Linked DNA regions of Homo sapiens: region 1 is linked to region 2. A link means that fine-mapping ties the variant in region 2 to the expression of a gene that starts in the linked region. Tissue or cell type: testis. Region 2 holds a variant in brackets; the other region holds the start of a gene. All regions are shown on one strand. Distances are from middle to middle.

Region 1 (4,248 bases), 380 kb after region 2:
CTATTTCCATGAATATGTACATTTTACATATCATCAATCCATTTATGAAACAACAAAGAGGGTCATAGAGACATGTAAACAAACAAGAAGCTCAGAACCCTGCTGAGGTATAATATAAAAACACCTGATTAAATAATCTGGAAGGAGGGTAAATGGTATGAAGAAATCAAAACAGGATGAATAGTTGAGCCACTCAAAGTTACAGGGAGCAAACTAAGTGGGAAAATAAATCGTTAACAGTTACAAAAACTGGAAATGTGCTTGTATATATGAGACAAATTGTCCATAAAATCAACTTGTTTATCTGACATTGGCTGGCAAGGATCTCCCTGTACTAGTAACACAGACATTCAACTAGATTAGGAGTCATCCAGCAACTTTTCCTGAAAATGGCAAAACAGTAAACATGTTTGGAGCTGTGGTCCACATCATCTATTCCATATTCTACTCGACCTCTGCAGCATGAGAGCAGCCATAGACAACACATAAACAAGTAAACAGGGTTACGTTTAAACAAAACTTTAAGTATAAAAGCAGTACTGATAGGGTTTTTGCATATGTTACTTTAATTATGACTTTAATTGCTTAAAGTATTTCCTGGAAACACGAAGTTGTTAACAAGTGTTAGTTATTTTTGTTTGAGAGAATTTCAAGAGATTGAAATTATCAACAGAGGAATGTGAAAGTCGTTGGGCATTAAGCTAAGCCATAAAAACTTTACCCTGAAAATCGTGGGGGTGTCCTTGAATGCCCACGAGTTTAATTTCCATTTTCTGCCTGAGGTTTTAAGGAGTATGCAGGATTAGGAGGGTAAACACTCATAGCTCATTAGTCTAACAGTGAAGAAACCATGAGGGCCTAGAGTAATGGAAAGGCAATGAAGTGAAAAGACAGTTAAAATGTGTAATTTTCCAAATACAGAACTGAGATATTTAAAAGGATTGTATGTGGTGGTTGGGTGCCATTACAAAGGAGGTGGATGAATTTTAGGCGTCTAGATTTGTGGTGCTGATGGTTGGGCAGGGGACAAGCACACAGGGAAACAAGGAAAAAAGATGTATTTAGGTTTAGGTAAAAATATCACATGCTCAGTATCCAATTCCTGTTAAACACCTGGAGATGGGAGTCTGTGGTGCAAAGGGAGTTCGAGTTTAACTATACACGATTGGGTGATGCTGGCATGCAAGGAGAGATGAAGCCATGGATTTCATTAAGGACCCCAATCTGAATGTGGACCGCACACAAGAATCAGAACCAAAACCTGGACACAGCCAAGACTGCAGGTTTCTCTTCCCTTGCTCCAAATCCACTTTCAGAAGAATTAGAGAAGAATTGACTAAAGAATGTAAGTAAACTCCAGGAAACAGGGTTCCACAGAAGCTGGGGAAAGGTCAGTACGTGGAAGAGAGAGATCAGTAGTACCTGCTCGCTACAAGGAGGCGCCTCCAAATGTCAATGCCTATTTTCAACAAGTGGGACCCAAAGTGATTCATGCCAGTGCTCTAAAATACACCTGACCCTTGAACAATGTGGGGGATATGGATGCTAACCCCCCACAGTCAAAAATCCAAGTTTAACTCTCAACTCCCCCAAAGCATAACTCCTAACGGCCTGCGGTTGACCGGAAGTCTTTGTCACTAATAATACAAAAAATTAAGACCTATTTTGCCTGTTATTCACATTACACACTGAATATGCTGCTCCCAGCGGAGGCCGAGACTCCTGCCCGGGCACCCCCTCACAGCCCCCACTCCAGCCTCCCCAGACTCACCCTCGGCGGGGCCACCTTCTTCTCATTTCAGTCTGGGGCCACATTCTCCGGGCCTGCGGGGCATGGCAGGAGGCAAAGCCAAAGGCGAAGTGGCCACAAATTCCGGTGGGGGCGCTGGCTCCTGCCCCACCCCAGCATCTATACCCTGAGTCTGATAGGACGAGAAGGAACATTTCAGCCAGCCCTGATTGGGTCATATTATCCAATCAGAGTTGTTTTGCACAGTGGCTCTCATCCAATCCGAACATGCCTTACAGGATATCTAGTTAAATAAGTCATTATAAATAGTTGCTCCGTGGGCTTTCCGCATTTCACCCTGCTCCAGGCAGCGTGGTCTGTATGGCTCCGCCCTGGGCAGGAGGAGAAAGAAGAGGGCCAGGCACCACGTGCCTGCACTCTCCCTGGATGCTGGAGGCTGCTCCGCCGTGGGCAGGAGGAGAAGGAAGAGAACTGGGTGCCGCCTGCCTGCACTCTCTCCGGATGCTGGAGGCTGGAGGCAGTGAGGCAGCAACAGCGCGAGGGCGAGGCGACTTTGGAGCTGCCTCATGCAGCGACCTCGCCTTCCGCTGCGCCTCCTCCCAGAACCCAAGAAGCCTGGAACCTGTGGCGTCCAGCCCTGAAAGGAGGAGACGGCAACCCAGCCGCGCGTGAGTCCGGGAGTCTGGGATACCGGCGGCAGAGGAAGGACAGGCAGGAGTCTCGGCCTCTCGGGGAGCGACGTGCCGGGAAAGGCAGGAGGGCCCCAGCGGTGGGGGCGGGGGTTGCGCGCCGGGGAGGGCGGCCTCAGGCTGGGAGCCTGGCAGATCGTCTGACTCTCCCCGAGCCCCATCCCAGGCCGAGCCAGGACCCCTCTGATGCACAGGCGTCTCAGGAGCCCGTTTCTTTCTTGAATCCGGGGCCCAGTGCGGCTTGAACCTAGCCCCCGACCTCCTCCTCGCCCTCTCAGAGTCCGCTGGGGTGGGCGCTGAAGGAGCCCGGGTCGGAGAGGAGCCCTCCCCTTCTCTCCTGCGTGGAAGCCCTGCAGCCTCCGTTTCTTTTGGGACTGGGGTCCGGGGCCTTCTGCCTGACCCGGGGTGAGAAAGGGAGCCCTGATCAGGACCCGGTGAGAGGGCGCTGGAGCCCGGGAGCGGCAGGAGCCTTGAGCGGCAGCCCGGGAAGAGGATGGGGTCACCTTCTGCCCCAGGTCCCCCACTGCCAGGATCTCTGTCACCTTCTGGGGGTCCTGTCCCCTGGGGTCCCACCCCCCGGGCTGCCTGTGGGTATCTCTCATCTGGAACTGGAAATAACCCTCTTCATAGTACGGCTTAGCAAATATTTATTCGCCCATGCACCCCCCTTTTTTTTCCTTCATAGTGTTCTTTTTGTCTTGGATCATTTGTGTTTTTCCTACATTGATGTGAAGCATTTTTAAAGACACTTTAGAGATTAGTCCTTTATTGGTTCATTTCTATTGTAGGTTGTTGTTTCCTACTCTGGTCTTTGTTGTTTAATTTCAGTTTTAATTTCTTGCTTGGTTTAGTTCATGTAACAATATTTTTCTTAGAATATTTGTATCTGTGTTTGTGAAACAGAACATCTATTATTTCTGGGTTTTTTATTGTCTGATCAGATTGTGTATTAATGTAATGCTGGCTTCTCGAAACAAATTGAAAAACCATCCCTTTCGTCTTTCTCTTTGAGAGAGAGTGAGCAGTGTCAATATTTTTTTCTTCCTTAAATATTTGGAACATTTTCAAAGTCTGATCCTGGTGTTTTCCTTGTGGAGCATTATTGTTGATTTGTTGGATTTTTAAAATTAGTTAGTTAATTTTGTTTAATATATATAGGAGTGTTCTTATTTTATGCTATTTTTGTGCCAGTTTTAGTAAGTTGGGTTCAGCATCTGTTGCGATCTCTGTTGTCAGACTTTTGATCATATGTATTTCACAAAATTCTCTGATTATCTTGTTATAATACTGTTATGTAGAGTTGTTGTTTTGATTCTGATACTGGTCACTTGTGTTCTTTCATCTTTTTTCCTTAATCAGTTTTGCCTGCACTCTCCCTGGATGCTGGAGGCTGGAGGCAGTGACGCAGCAACAGCGCGAGGCGACTTTGGAGCGGCCTCATATAGCGACCTCGCCTTCCGCTGCGCGTCCTCCCAGAGCCCAAGAAGCCCGGAACCTGTGGCATCCATCTCTGAAAGGAGAAGACGGCAACCCAGCCGAGGGTGAGTCCGGGAGTCTGGGGTGCCGGCAGCGGAGGAAGGACAAGCAGGAGTCTCGGCCTCCCGGGGAGAATTTCACAAAATTCTCTGATTATCTTGTTATAATACTGTTACGTAGGCTGTTGTTTTGATTCTGATACTGGTCTCTTGTGTTCTTTAATCTTTTTTCCTTAATCAGTTTTGCTAGTGGTTTATTAACTATGTTGTTTATAAAAACAACTTTTAGCCTTGGTTTATTTGTGTTATGTTTTTTTTTCCATTTCATTGATGT
Region 2 (4,248 bases):
TCGAATAGAATCGAATGGAATCATCGAATGGACTCGAATGGAATAATCATTGAACGGAATTGAATGGAATCATCGTCGAATGGAAACCAATGGAATCATCATCAAATGGAAATGAAACGAGTCATCATCTAATGGAATGGCATGGAATCCTCAAATGGAATCGAATGGAATCATCATCGAATGGAATCTAATGGAATCATTGAACGGCATTGAATGGAATCGTCATCGAATGAATTGAATGCAATCATCGAATGGTCTCAAATGGAATCATCTTCAAATGGAATGGAATGGAATCATCGCATAGAATCGAATGGAATTATCATCGAATGGACTCAAATGGAATGAACATCAAACGGAATCAAACGGAATTATCGAATGGAATCGAAGAGAATCATCGAATGGACTCGAATGGAATCATCTAATGAAATAGAATGGAAAAATCCATGGAATCGAATGCAATCATCATCAAATGGAATCGAATGGAATCGTCGAATGGACTCGAATGGAATAAACATTTAAGGGAATCGAATGGAATTATCACTGGATGGAAACGAATGGAATCATCATCCAATGGAATCGAATGGAATCATCAAATGGAATCAGATGGAATCATCATCAAATGGCATCGAATAGCATTATGGAATGAAATCCAATGTGATCATCATCGAATGGACACGAACGGAATCATCATCCAATGGAAACTAATGGAATCAACATCAAATGGAATCGAATGGAAACACCATCGAATGGAAACGAATGGAATTATCATGAAATTGAAATGGATGGACTCATCATCGAATGGATTCGAATGGAGTCATCGAATGAAATTGATTGAAATCATCATCAAATGGAATCGGATGGAATCATTGAATTGAATCGAATGGAATCATCATCAGATGGAAATGAAGGGAATCATCACAGAATGGATCGAATGGATTCATTGAATGGAATCACATGGAATGATCGAATGGACTTGAATGGAATCATTGAATGGACTCGAATGGAATCATTATTGCATGGAATTAAATGGAATCATCCAATGGTCTCGAATAGAATCATTATCAAATGGAATCGAATGGAATCACCAAATAGAATCGAATGGAACAATCATCGAAGGGACTCAAATGGAATTATCCTCAAATGGAATCGAATGGAATTATCGAATGCAATCAAATGGAATTATCGAATGCAATCGAATAGAATCATCGAATGGACTCGAATGGAATCATCGAATGGAATGGAATGGAATAGTCAAGGAACTCGAATGGAATCATCATTGAATGGAATCGAATGGAATCATCGAGTGGAATCGAATGGAATCATGATCAAATGGAATCGAATGGAATCATCATTGAATGGAATCGAATGGAATCATCAAGTGGAATCGAATGGAATCATGATCAAATGGAATCGAATGTAATCATCATCAAATGGAATTAAAAATAACCATCATCTATTGGTATTGAATGCAATTGTCATCAAATGGAATTCAAAGGAATCATCATCAAATGGAACCGAATGGAATCCTCATTGAATGGAAATGAAAGGAGTCATCATCTAATGGAATGGCATGGAATCATCATCAAATGGAATTGAATGGAATTATCATCAAATGGCATCTAATGGAATCCTTAAACGTAATTGAATGGAATCGTCATCGAATGAATTGAATGCAATCATCGAATGGTCTCGAATGGAATCATCTTCAAATGGAAAGGAATGGAATCATTGCATAGAATCGAATGGAATTATCATTGAATGGACTCGAATGGAATCAACATCAAACGGAATCAAACGGAATTATCGAATGGAATAGAAGAGAATCATCGAATTGTCACGAATGCAATCATCTAATGGTATGGAATGGAATAATCCATGGACACGAATGCAATCATCATCGAATAGAATCGAATGGAATCATCGACTGGACTCGAATGGAATAATCATTGAACGGAATCGAATGGAATCATCGTCGAATGGAAACCAATGGAATCATCATCGAATGGAAATGAAAGGAGTCATCATCTAATGGAATCGCATGGAATCATCATCAAATGGAATCGAATGGAGTCTAATGGAATCATTGAACGGCATTGAATGGAATCGTCATCGCATGAATTGAATGCAATCATCGAATGGTCTCGAATGGAATCATCTTCAAATGGAATGGAATGGAATCATCGCATGGAATCGAAT[C/G]GAATTATCATCGAATGGACTCAAATGGAATGAACATCAAACGGAATCAAACGAAATTATCGAATGGAATCGAAGAGAATCATCGAATGGACTCGAATGGAATCATCTAATGAAATAGAATGGAAAAATCCATGGAATCGAATGCAATCATCATCAAATGGAATCGAATGGAATCGTCAAATGGACTCGAATGGAATAAACATTGAACTGAAGCGAACGGAATCATCACCGGATGGAAACGAATGGAATCATCATCGAATGGAATCGAATGGAATCATCAAATGGAACCCGATGGAATCATCATCAAATGGCATCGAATAGCATTATGGAATGAAATCCAATGTGATCATCATCGAATGGACTCGAACGGAATCATCATCCAATGGAAACTAATGGAATCAACAACGAATGGAATCGAATGGAAACACCATCGAATTGAAACGAATGGAATTATCATGAAATTGAAATAGATGGACTCATCATCGAATGGATTCGAATGGAGTCATCGAAAGAAATTGATTGAAATCATCATCAAATGGAATCGGATGGAATCATTGAATGGAATCGAATGGAATCATCATCAGATGGAAATGAAGGGAATCATCACAGAATGGATCGAATGGATTCATTGAATGGAATCACATGGAATGCTCGAATGGACTTGAATGGATTCCTTGAGTGGACTCGAATGGAATCATTATTGCATGGAATTAAATAGAATCATCCAAAGGTCTCGAATGGAATCATTATCAAATGGAATCAAATGGAATCACCGAATAGAATCGAATGGAACAGTCACCGAAGGGACTGAAATGGAATTATCCTCAAATGGAATTGAATGGAATTATCGAATGCAATCGAATGGAATTATCGAATGCAATCGAATAGAATCATCGAATGGACTCGAATGGAATCATCGAATGGAATGGAATGGAATAGTCAAGGAACTCGAATGGAATCATCATTGAATGGAATCGAATGGAATCATCGAGTGGAATCGAAAGGAATCATGATCAAATGGAATCGAATGGAATCATCATTGAATGGCATCGAATGGAATCATCGAGTGGAATCGAATGGAATCATGATCAAATGGAAATGAATGGAATCATCACAGAATGGATTGAATGGTTTCATTGAATGGAATCACATGGAATCATCGAATGGACTTGATTGGAATCATTGAATGGACTCGAATGGAATCATCATTGCATGGAATTGAATGGAATCATCGAATGGTCTCGAATGGAATCATTACCAAATGGAATCCAATGGAATCACCGAATAGAATCGAATGGATCAATCGTCGATTGGACTCAAATGGAATTATCCTCAAATGGAATAGAATGGAATTATCGAATGCAATTGACTGGAATTATCGAATGCAATCGAATAGAATCATCGAATGGACTCGAATGGAATCATCAAATGGAATGGAATGGAATAGTCAATGAACTCGAATGGAATCATCATTGAATGGAATCGAATGGAATCATCGATTTGAATCGAATGGAATCATGATCAAATGGAATCGAATGTAATCATCATCAAATGGAATCAAAAATAACCATCATCAATTGGTATTGAATGGAATTGTCATCAAATGGAATTCAAAGGAATCATCATCAAATGGAACCGAATGGAATCCTCATTGAATGGAAATGAAAGGAGTCATCATCTAATGGAATGGCATGGAATCATCATCAAATGGAATCTAATGGAATCCTTGTACGGAATTGAATGGAATCGTCATCGAATGAATTGAATGCAATCATCGAATGGTCTCGAATGGAATCATCTTCAAATGGAAAGGAATGGAATCATCGCATAGAATCGAATGGAATTATCATCGAATGGACTCGAATGGAATCAACATGAAACGGAATCAATCGGAATTATCGAATGGAATCGAAGAGAATCATCGAATGGACTCGAATGGAGTCATCTAATGGAATGGAATGGAATAATCCATGGACTCGAATGCAATCATCATCGAATGGAATCGAGTGGAATCATCGAATGGACTCGAATGGAATAATCATTGAACCGAAT

Evidence for each region. PIP is the estimated chance that this variant, and not a neighbour inherited with it, causes the effect.
Region 1: it holds the start of LINC00839, and the variant in region 2 is the best candidate, but not a certain one, in a credible set for the expression of LINC00839 in testis (GTEx, PIP 0.73).

The regions. Positions count from the first base shown.
Region 1 is chr10:42,473,463-42,477,710 of GRCh38, forward strand. It overlaps LINC00839 (long intergenic non-protein coding RNA 839), which reads left to right and starts at 2,029. Exons shown (of 5, transcript NR_026827.1): 1 at 2,029-2,418; 2 at 3,799-3,980.
Region 2 is chr10:42,096,075-42,100,322 of GRCh38, forward strand. No RefSeq gene overlaps it. Among named protein-coding and RNA genes, the nearest start is that of LINC00839, 380 kb to the right of the region's middle. The variant C/G (reference allele first, on the strand shown) is at 2,197.